Regions from separate parts of the Homo sapiens genome. Here region 2 is linked to region 1. A link means that fine-mapping ties the variant in region 1 to the expression of a gene that starts in the linked region. Tissue or cell type: amygdala. Region 1 holds a variant in brackets; the other region holds the start of a gene. All regions are shown on one strand. Distances are between the middles of the regions.

Region 1 (5,152 bases):
AAAAAAGAAAAAAAAAATTAATCCAAGTGGGGGTGGTTTTAGGTGCTGCCTCTTTATCTTTTGCTTAGATTTTGGAAGGGTTTAAAATTTCCCTCCTTGCCTTTAGATTCTCTAATCTTGTATCCGACGTTAATTAAGCACCTACTGTGTACTAGATGCTGGTGCTGGGGGCACAAAATGGAAGACCCCTATAGTCCTATAGGGAGGCATATATGTAAACGCATGTGCATCATTACAGAGGTTTGTACAATTTACTTTGGGGGGCGAGGAGAAAGAACTGGCACGGGGAGAAGGGAAGGTTGCACAGGAAAGGCATATCTGAACAGGGTTTAGAAGGCTGAATTTTTGGCAGGTGGAATGGGAGTAAGGTGGGGAGGAGAATATTCTAGAAGAAACAGCAGGTCTTAGAGAGGCATGGAGTGTGAAAAGACGTGCTTCTGTGACTAACATAACAAAATAATTTGGACAAAGTTATTTATCCTTCCTAACTCTTAAGTTCCTCTTGAATAAAAAGAAATAGTGACAGCAATATAGCAATGTGTCCAATCAGTGGATTATGAAACACACTTCAAAGGCAAAATGATATCCTCACACCCAAAAGGTAAATGCTATCATAACTCGGGTGAACTGTGTTCTTGGAAAGGGAGCTTAAAACAGTTTATCCCAATGTTGATTCTGGTTTTGGCTTCATGGAGTCTCATTCATTCTTACTTCTGACCTCTACCCCTACTGTAATTATTTTTTCAAGGAACTGGACCAACAGGACCCAAGGGAGAGTATCAAAGGCAAAACAAAGGAAAATGAGGACAACCCAATACTCAGAAAAAAAAACGAGTAATTCATGGATTCACAACGGGCAACAAACTAGATGACTATTAGGAAGAGAAGAGCAAACCTTATGATCTCAAAATGATTTCTTGTTCATTTGCATCCTCGCATCAATCTAGACTTTAAGAAATATGTGATTTTTAAATAAATGGGTATATCTGCATAATAGTGTTTTGGCATTAAATTATTTGATATGACTATTAAACATGTTTCTGCAAAAACCACTTCACCATACTGCTAGAATCTAGCAGCTAGATTGACCCAACACTTCATTATGTCATTCCCTTGCTCAAAGGTTGAAAGCAACCAGATGTGGTGGCTCACACCTGTAATCCCAACACTTTAGGAGGCCAAGACAGGATGATCACTTGAGCCCAGGAGTTCAAAACTAGCCTGGGCAACAAAGTGAGACCTTTTCTCTACACAAAATAAAAACACATAGTCCCAGCTATTTGGGAGGCTGAGGTGGAAGGATCGCTTGAGCTCGGGCGGTCAAGGTGGTAGTGAACTGTGATTGCACCACTGCACTCCAGCCTATATAACAGAATGAGCCTGTCTTAAAAATAAAAAATAAAGTTGTAACTATTCTCTGCTAAGTAGAATATAAAAATGCCCTAACCTTACACTCAGATTTCCACAATTAAGCTCTATTCTGCCCCCTATCCACACCCTTTTTCACTATTGCTCTACAGAAACCCTCTTCTTTGACAAAATTAATTTTCTTAGTGTGCCTCAAACACACAATCCCATGTGAACACTGACCTTTCATAAAGATGATATTCTCGCCACCCCAGCCACATACTTAACTAGGCTACTAGATACATGTGTCCTCTGTGGTCTCCTAGTGGAAATTCTGTTTTTAATGTTAATACAAATAATTTTTTAAGCAATGCAAGTTTCTTGACATTGTTTAGGAAACGTCAGTGGTTAGAGTGATTTAGTATTGCGTACTGAAAATAATAGAAAAAATATCGACACTGAGTCATATCTACTTCTTTACCTTCGACCTTTTAAAATGTACTTGTGGGATTTAGATTATCTTTGGATTGAACTATACAATACAATAAAATGTAAAATTAAGTGCCCCATGTTTGAGAGACAATCATTGTACTTGAGGTAGAAAAGTGCTTTAAACAGTGATGAGACTTGGTTTTATATTGTCGCTTCACATATGTTTGTTGGACCAGGTTTTCTGTGGGTGCGTGTATTTGATTACATTGTTTAGTTATAGGGAATGTGCACCTGTTTTTTGTTGTTGTTGTTGTTGTTGTTTTCAGCTGGGCGCAGTGGCTCACGCCTGTAGTCCCACCACTTTGAGAGGCCAAGGTGGGCAGATCACTTGAGGTCAGGAGTTTGAGATGAGCCTGGGCATCATGGCAAAACCTTGTCTCTATTAAAAGTACAAAAATTAGGCCAGGCACGGTGGCTTACGCCTGTAATCCCAGCAGTTTGGAAGGCCAAAGTGGGTGGATCACCTGAGGTCAGGAGTTCAAGACCAGCCTGACCAATATGGTGAAACCCCATCTCTACTAAAAATAGAAAAATTAGCCGGGCGTGGTGGCAGGCACCTGTAGTCCCAGCTACTCAGGAGGCTGAGACAGGAGAATCGCTTGAACCCGGGAAGCGGAGATTGCAGTGAGCCAAGATCACGCCACTGCACTCCAGCCTGGGCGACAGAGCAAGACTCCATCTCAAAAAAAAAAAAAAAAAAAAAAAAAAAAGCTGGGCAGGGTGATACACGCCTGTAATCCTAGCTACTAGGGACGCTGAGGCATGAGAATTGCTTGAACCCAGGAGGCAGAGGTTGCAGTGACCTGAGATCATGCCATTGCACTCCAGCCTGGGTGACAGAGAGAGACTCTGT[T/C]TCAAAAAAAAAAAAAAAGTTCCTTTTTAAGGTTGAACAAAGGCTCATTCATTCCTTCCTTTCCCAGACTTTCACCAAGCGCCTTCTATGGGCCAAGCATTGTGCTACGTGCTAGGTATACACAGGCAAGAGGTAATATACACAGATAAAAGGTGATTCTCTCCCAACGTGAGTTGGGAAGACAGACATGGCTAAGGCTTGTGGCTATGCTGAAGGGACTCTGCAACAATTTTCTAAGGCTACTATAATGCTGAGTAACAACCAGCCATGAAACTTCAGTGGTATACAATAAAACCTCATTTCTTGTGCATCTAGGGTGGTTGCTTAGGTAGTTCTGCTGATTTGGCTTGGGTTCACTGAAGTGTCTGGTGGTTAGCTGCCATTGGCTGATCTAGGATGGCCTCAGCTAGGACAACCATGGTAATTTGGATGTGCTTCCCGTGCCTTTCATCCAGCAGGCATGATCTCACGGCAGTGACTAAGACACAAGAGCAAGAACATGTCCAACTGCACAAGTTACTTTAAAGCCTCTGCTTAAAAACATCCCAACAGGCCAGGCACGGTAGCTCATGCCTGTAATCTCAGCATTTTGGGAGGCCTAGGCAGGCAGATCACTTGAGGTCAGGAGTTCAAGACCAGCCTGGCCAACATAGTGAAACCCTGTCTCTACTAAAAATACAAAAATTAGCCGGGCATGCTGGCACATGCCTATAATCCCAGCTACTGGGGAGGCTGAGGCGGGAGAATTGCTTGAACCCTGGAAGCGGAGGTTGCAGTGAGCCAAGATTGTGCCATTACACTCCAGCCTGGGTAAAGAAGCGAGACTCCATCTCAAAAAAAAAAAAAATCCCTACAATCAAAGCGAGTAGCATAGCTGAGACCCCAGGCAGAGTTATATGTCATAGGGCATGGATACAAAGATGGGAGAATGGAGGTCATCATGGCAATCTGCCATGAGCTCTGAACACACAGACCAGGGCACCTAACTCAGCCTAGGGACATAAGGAATGGTTTCCCAGAGAAGGTGATGCTGACTTGAGTTGAATCTTGAAAGAGAAGACGCAAGTTAACCAGGCAATAAAGCAGAGAGGGCGCTTTAAGCAGAGCAACCCACATGAACCAAGAGCTTTGGAGACTGAAGTGCTTCCACGTCTTTACTTTATGTGATGCATATGCCCTGCAGCTATTAACCTTTCTGCAGTTTCCTGTCTGGAATGTAGATGTGAGCCCTAGATGTGCACAGCTGTCTCCTGGCCATGAGGCAATAAGCATGAAGTTGATGGTCTGTAGAAATAAGTCACCCAATGGCATTCTTGAGCCACTGTATCCACCCCAACTGTATGACTACATGACTTCATGTCACACAGGTCAGCACCCAGGAACTCCTGTGATATCCCCTGGAGAACTACCTAGTCCCTCAGTGCTCCGTGATCTATCTCTTCTTTCTCCCTCAGTCAAGACTCTTTCTCTCTCTCTCTCTCTCTCTCTCTCTCTCTCTCTCTCTCTCTCTCTCTCTCTCTCTCTCTCACTCTCTGAGATGGAATTTCACTCTTGTTGCCCAGGCTGGAGTGCAATGGCATGACCTCAGCTCACCACAGCCTCCGCCTCCCAGGTTCAAGCGATTCTCCTGCCCCAGCCTCCCGAGTGGCTGGGATTACAGGCATGAGCCACCACACCCAGCTAATTTTGTATTTTTAGTAGAGATGGAGTTTCTCCATGTTGGTCAGGCTGGTCTCGAACTCCCGACCTCAGGTGATCCGCCCGCCTTGGCCTCCCAAAGTGCCGGGATTACAGGCATAAGCCACCATGCCCAGCCCAAAAATCTTGTTCCTTCAACCAAGCTGACTCCAGATGCTTTGCATTGTTTGGAGAAGTGGTGATGCAGTTTCTCAATGTCTAGAGTTTCAACAACACCCCTACCCTGGCCTCCACGTCACCATTGCCAAGAGTAAAGAGAGAGCACCCCAGCCTCTTCCAGCAGGTACTTCACACTGCCCTTCCCCAAGTTTTCAGTTTGGCCACCACTATCTTCCTGGAGGCCATCATTATCTGTTATTATTTCCTTTATCCTGGTTTATGCCAGTCACACAAGTAGCCCAGGATCCTCAGTTGTTCCTTATCCCTTGTGTTTCATCCCAAATGGCTCCAAATGTCTCATTTTCTGACCCCATTTCCCACCCTCCCCATCCCGACACCCTTGTTGGGATCCACAAAATCCATCTTTTCTCGAAGTGTCTTAATTTCCTCTTCACTTTCTTGCTCTAAAGGAAACTAGGTCTCCCTTGAAGACACTGCTTTCTCTGCAGTCCTCTCAAGTGGTGGCTGTTTCTTACACTCCACAATGGAATAAGTTTTCTTGTTCCTCATTGCTGCTTCCAGATTATTCTGGCTCCCTCCTTCCTAAACATTTCCAGCTTTCACTCTGATATTAACCAGACTATATGGCCCTCATTACAGTCA
Region 2 (5,152 bases), 31 kb before region 1:
TGGGAGGATCACTTGAGCCTGGGAGGTCAAGGCTGCAGTGAGCCTTGATTGAGCCACTGCACTCCAGCCTGGGCAACAAAGCGAGACCCTGTCAAAAAAAAAAAGATGATTATCTTGGATTATTCAGGTGGGCCCAGTGTAATCATAAGAGTTCTTGAACGTGAAAGAGGGAATTGAAAGAGAATCACAAAAATGACAGCACAAGAAGGACTTGGCCCAACCTCACTGGCTTTGAAGATGGAGGAAGGGGCCAAGGGTCAAGGAAAGTGGGTGGCCTCCAGAAGATGAAAAAGGCAAGGAAACAGATTCTCTCCTTAGTCTAAATCCTGAATTTATACCAGTGGGACCCATTTTGGATTTCTGACCTCCAAAACTCTAAGATAAATTAGTGTTGTTTTACGCCACTACTCATGGCAATTTGTTACAGCAGCAATAGAAAATTAATAGACACACATGTACATACCTCTCTTCTTCCCCCAATTCTAGACAACCACTTTCTTTATAGATTTGCCTATTCTGGATATTTACATTACATAAATGACCATTAAGTCTGGATATAAAACAAAAACAAGTCTCTATTGTTAATTTTATCGGTTTTTAGAAACATGGGAACCCGTATGTTTACTTGGTGAAGAGTTGAGTATATTCTTGGCCAGAAGATGGGAACACTAAAATTAAAAACAAAAAGAGTTGGGAATAACTTATTTTTGTTTTGCAGGGAGTGGAAAGGAAGAAAATTTCCACTCTCATTTGTCTGGAAAGTCTCCCAGAGAGTTTTCAAGATCATTAATAATAATAGCTAATTCACACTGACCTGTCTTCCCAGCCAATGTATCACCTCTAAGGAAATGTATACTTGATATGTTTTGGCTCTGTGTCCCCAGGCAAATCTCATGTTGAATTATGATCTTCAGTGTTGGGGGAGGAACATGGTGGAAGGTGATTGGATCATGGGGGCGGATTTCCCCCTTGCTGTTCTCGTGATAGTGAGTTCTCATGTGATCTGGTTGTTTCGAAGTGTGTTGCGCTTCCTCCTTTGCTGTCTCTCTCCTGCTGGCCATGTGAAGATTGTGCCTGCTTCCCCTTTGCTTTCCACCATGATTGTAAGTATCCTGAGGCCTCCCCAGCCATGCCTCCTGTACAGCCTGTGGAACTGTTAGCCAATTAAACCTCTTTTCTCCATAAATTACCCAGTCTCAGGTATATCTGTATAGCACTGTGACAACGGACTAATACAATACTCATACTCATGTCTGTCACAATCTCTACCATCAAACATAATTACTTTCAAGCTTTGACCATTCCTTAGATTCCAATGGGAACCACCTTTCTTTCTGGTCACCTCACAGCCTAACTATCCAGCTCTCCCTCTAACTCCTACAGTATCTTTAACTGAAGCTATAAGTAATATCAGATCATGATACCCAGAGTATGGTGTATGATCATGGCATATTTACTGTTACTTAATCCTGACTTGAAAATACTAACTTCTCTCCCATATGTCTGAAAATCCCAGCCACAAATAGGCTGAGGCTGTGGTGGAACTTAAGTTTCATGCACAAAGTCATTTTTGCCTTGGCTGCAAAAAAATATGTAGTTAAGCTAAATATTGTGCTGCAGTATCTATACTGACATATAATTCAATATTATTCTCTCCTTGCAGCTGCAAACATACTTAATGATGAAAGACAGAATGTCTTTCCCTCCAAGATTGGGAACATGGCAGGTATGTCTGCTCTTACCACTACTATTTAACATCATATTGGGAGTCTTAGCAAGAGCAAGGCCAGAAAAAGAAATAAAAGGCACATAGGTCAGACACAGTGGCTCACACCTGTAATCCCAGCACTTTGGGAGGCCAAGGTGGATGGATTGCTTGAGGCCAGGAGTTCAAGACCAGCCTGGCCAACATGGAGAAATCGCATCTCTACTAAAAATATAAAAATGAGCCAGGTGTGGTGGTGTGTGCCTGTAATCCCAGCTACTCAGGAGGCTGAGACATGAGAATTGCTTGAACCCGGGAGGTGGAGGATGCAGTAAGCTGAGAATATGCCACTGCACTCCAGCCTGGGTGACAGAACGAGACTATCTCAAAAAAAAAAAAAAAAGAAAAAGAAAAAGAAATGAAATGAAAGACACACAGATTCGAAACTCAGAACAAAACTGTTACTATCTGCAGGCAACATGATTATCTGTATAAGAAGTCCCAAAGAATCTACAAAACAAGCTCCTAAAATTAAAAGTGAGTTCAGACTGGTCACAGTGGCTCACGCCTGTAATCCCAGCACTTTGGGAGGCCGAGACAGGCGGATCGCCTGAGGTCAGGAGTTTGAGACCCGTCTGACCAACATGGTGAAACCCCGTCTCTACTAAAAATACAAAAATTAGCCGGGTGTGGTGGCAGGCACCTGTAATCCCAGCTACTCGGGAGGCTGAGGCAGGAGAATCACTTGAACTCGGGAGGCGGAGGTTGCAGTGAGTAGAGATGGTGCCATTGCACTCCAGCCTGGGTGACAAGAGCGAGACTTCGTCTCAAAAAAACCAAAACAAACTAACAAAAACATAAAAACACTATGGGACAATGGCATTTGTTTGGACACAGGTCTCCAAATCTGCCTCTTCAAAAGAAACAGACACTGCAACTGCAAGAGCCTTGGTTAAAGACTTAAGCCGGCCCCAACTAAGAGTGGGGATGGCTTCCCTAGGAGGTAGGAATCAGCTGGAGTCCTTGCCTCTCCTGGTGCCCAGGCAGTGCCATCTGCAGACACTTCTGTCATCCTCCCATCCTTGGGGGGCTCTTTCTCCAGCTCCAGTTCGTGAGCGGCAAAGCTTGCAGCTGTACAGCCTCCAAGAGCAAACAGCCCAGGTCCCACCCGGCCACAATTGTATAGTGACGCCCTCCCCGTCCCCTTCTTTGAGCTGCGCTCAAAGGACCAGCCTGGACTGCTATGCTGTCTCACTCCCAACCCAAGCTCCGCCCAACTGTGGGTCCTTGCACTTTGGCACCTTTGAGCGCGGACTCAAAACAGGCCAGAAGCGCACCGCTAGCGAGAACGGTTAGGAGGCCGGAAGTGCGTCACGCTTGTGGGGCGCTTGGAGGCCAGAAGTGCGTCATGAGCACGGCTGCTCTTTCTACGGTGCAACTTTTCCGCATCTCGGTGTTTCCGATTGGGAGACATCCTCTTCCTTTCCTTGTACACACTTTTTTCTCTCCTCAGGAACCTCACGCCTGGGTCATTGTCCATTTGGGTGGGTCAAGAAAGCGATCGCTTCTGCCCGGGAGCAGTTGATTGTCAGGAAGGAATTCGTGATAAAACCGCCATCACCACAGGCCTAGATGGTGGCCGGTGTTTCCTGGTTGCTTACTGGTCTTTCTGAGTTCTGGTTCACTCGCAGTGAATCAACTTCCTTTCACAAGCTCTGCCACTCACGGGCCATTGAGGAAGACCCTTGTGTCTCTGAGCAGCTTTTGTCTTCTGTAAAATGAGCCAGTCAGATTATACCATTCAAGCTGTCTTTAATTCCATGCACTGTAACCTCCAATGGTTTGCCACTACCCCTGGAGTCCAAGTCACCATTCAAGGCTCCTCAGACCCTTGCCCTCCTTCCCCTCTAAATGATAAAGAAAATGCCAAAAGCGCAGGGCATATGGGCTAAGAGAGATAGCTCTAAAGTGTTAGTGCCTGTGGCTTTCTGGGTCCACAAAAGAGAACTCTGGCCAGGATTTTGCTGGACTGTCAAAACGTTTGTGATCACTGTCACAGAATTACAAAACAAACTGGGGACTTAGAGCTTCTTAGTCCCATCTCCTTTACAACAGTATGACATAGTGGTAAGGAGCACAGCCTGGCATCAGGATGCTTTGTTTCAAAGGCCAAAGGACCACTCTGTGACCTTTGGTGCATTACTTAACCTGTAAGTGTCACATTTATTTCTAAAACTAGGATAATAATAGTATTTATTCCCCGGATTGTTGTGAGGATTAGATGTTAGTACATGTAAATCAGTACAATGTCTAGCACATACTAAACACTCACTAGATATTAGTAATTATTACACTCACTAGATATTAGCGATTATTAATAGCTTAGGAATTGAGCCTGAATAGGCTCTGGAGTTAATCCAGTATTCAATCTTTTTATTAAAACCTTTGAAAATGGTTATAAACCTCAGTGGGTTTGGGCATCTGTACACTTTTTACTACCAGACTAGATAGTATAAGCAAAGCCTGGTGGCAGTTCAGGGTTGGTTCTTAGAAGATCAGAGTGCTAAAATAGCTAGCTCATCATGAGCTGAGGACTTCCAGGATGACTAGTTGGACTTGCTGTTCAGTTGGGACTTCAGCAACACAAGTCCAGACAAATGGGACCATGATCCAGGTCTTCAAGAGCAACCCTCAGGCTTTCTGCAGAGTGTAAACTCCTCAAGAAAGAGGCTTTTCTATCTTGTCCATGACTGTATCCTGAGTTTCTAGAATAGTGTTTATAACACAGTTCATGATCAATAATCATTTTTTGATGAATAAAGAGTTGGACATATATGATTATACTCCCTTACTATAAGGGAGAGTGGGACAGATAATACAAGCACTCAACGCAGAATGAATCATGAGTAAGAGAAAACCAAGACTCAAAGAGTTTCAGTAAGGCCACAGCATATAATAGGTATCAGAGTTAAGATTTAAACCCTAGATTATTTCCACCATGTCAAACTGGCTTTCCAGAACAATATACTAAGTGGTATTCCAAGTCCCAATACGCCTTTCTATGCTCTCACACCGTGGACACAAGCTTTCTGACCTCAGTCCCTTCAGGAAGAGAGAGAGAGAAGAGCAACAGTAACTGTAAGAGGAAAAATCATCAAATTCTGAAATAAGGGCCAAAGAACCATATAAGATGACACGAGTCCCATTTTACAGATGAGGAAACTGAACACAGAAAGATTAAATAACGTGCTCAAAGTCATGCACAGCTCTTATGTGGCAGAGCCAGAATTCAAACCATGATAGTTTGGCCTCAGTATACACACATAAGCACTCTATCACTGCCTCAGATACGTAGTTCTGTGTCTCATAGTGAAGAAGTTGAAATATGTTAAGCCAAACTAATGTTTCCAAGCCTCCATTTATTAACTGTGATTTGGGGCAAGTTAC

Evidence for each region. PIP is the estimated chance that this variant, and not a neighbour inherited with it, causes the effect.
Region 2: it holds the start of ZNF19, and the variant in region 1 is fine-mapped to the expression of ZNF19 in amygdala (GTEx, PIP 0.95).

Annotation. Positions count from the first base shown.
Region 1 is chr16:71,516,857-71,522,008 of GRCh38, forward strand. LOC105371335 (a long non-coding RNA gene) reads left to right here. Exons shown (of 2, transcript NR_135172.1): 2 at 749-990. Among named protein-coding and RNA genes, the nearest start is that of CHST4, 7.0 kb to the right of the region's middle. The variant T/C (reference allele first, on the strand shown) is at 2,693.
Region 2 is chr16:71,486,266-71,491,417 of GRCh38, forward strand. ZNF19 (zinc finger protein 19) reads right to left here and starts at 3,059. Exons shown (of 6, transcript NM_006961.4): 1 at 3,007-3,059.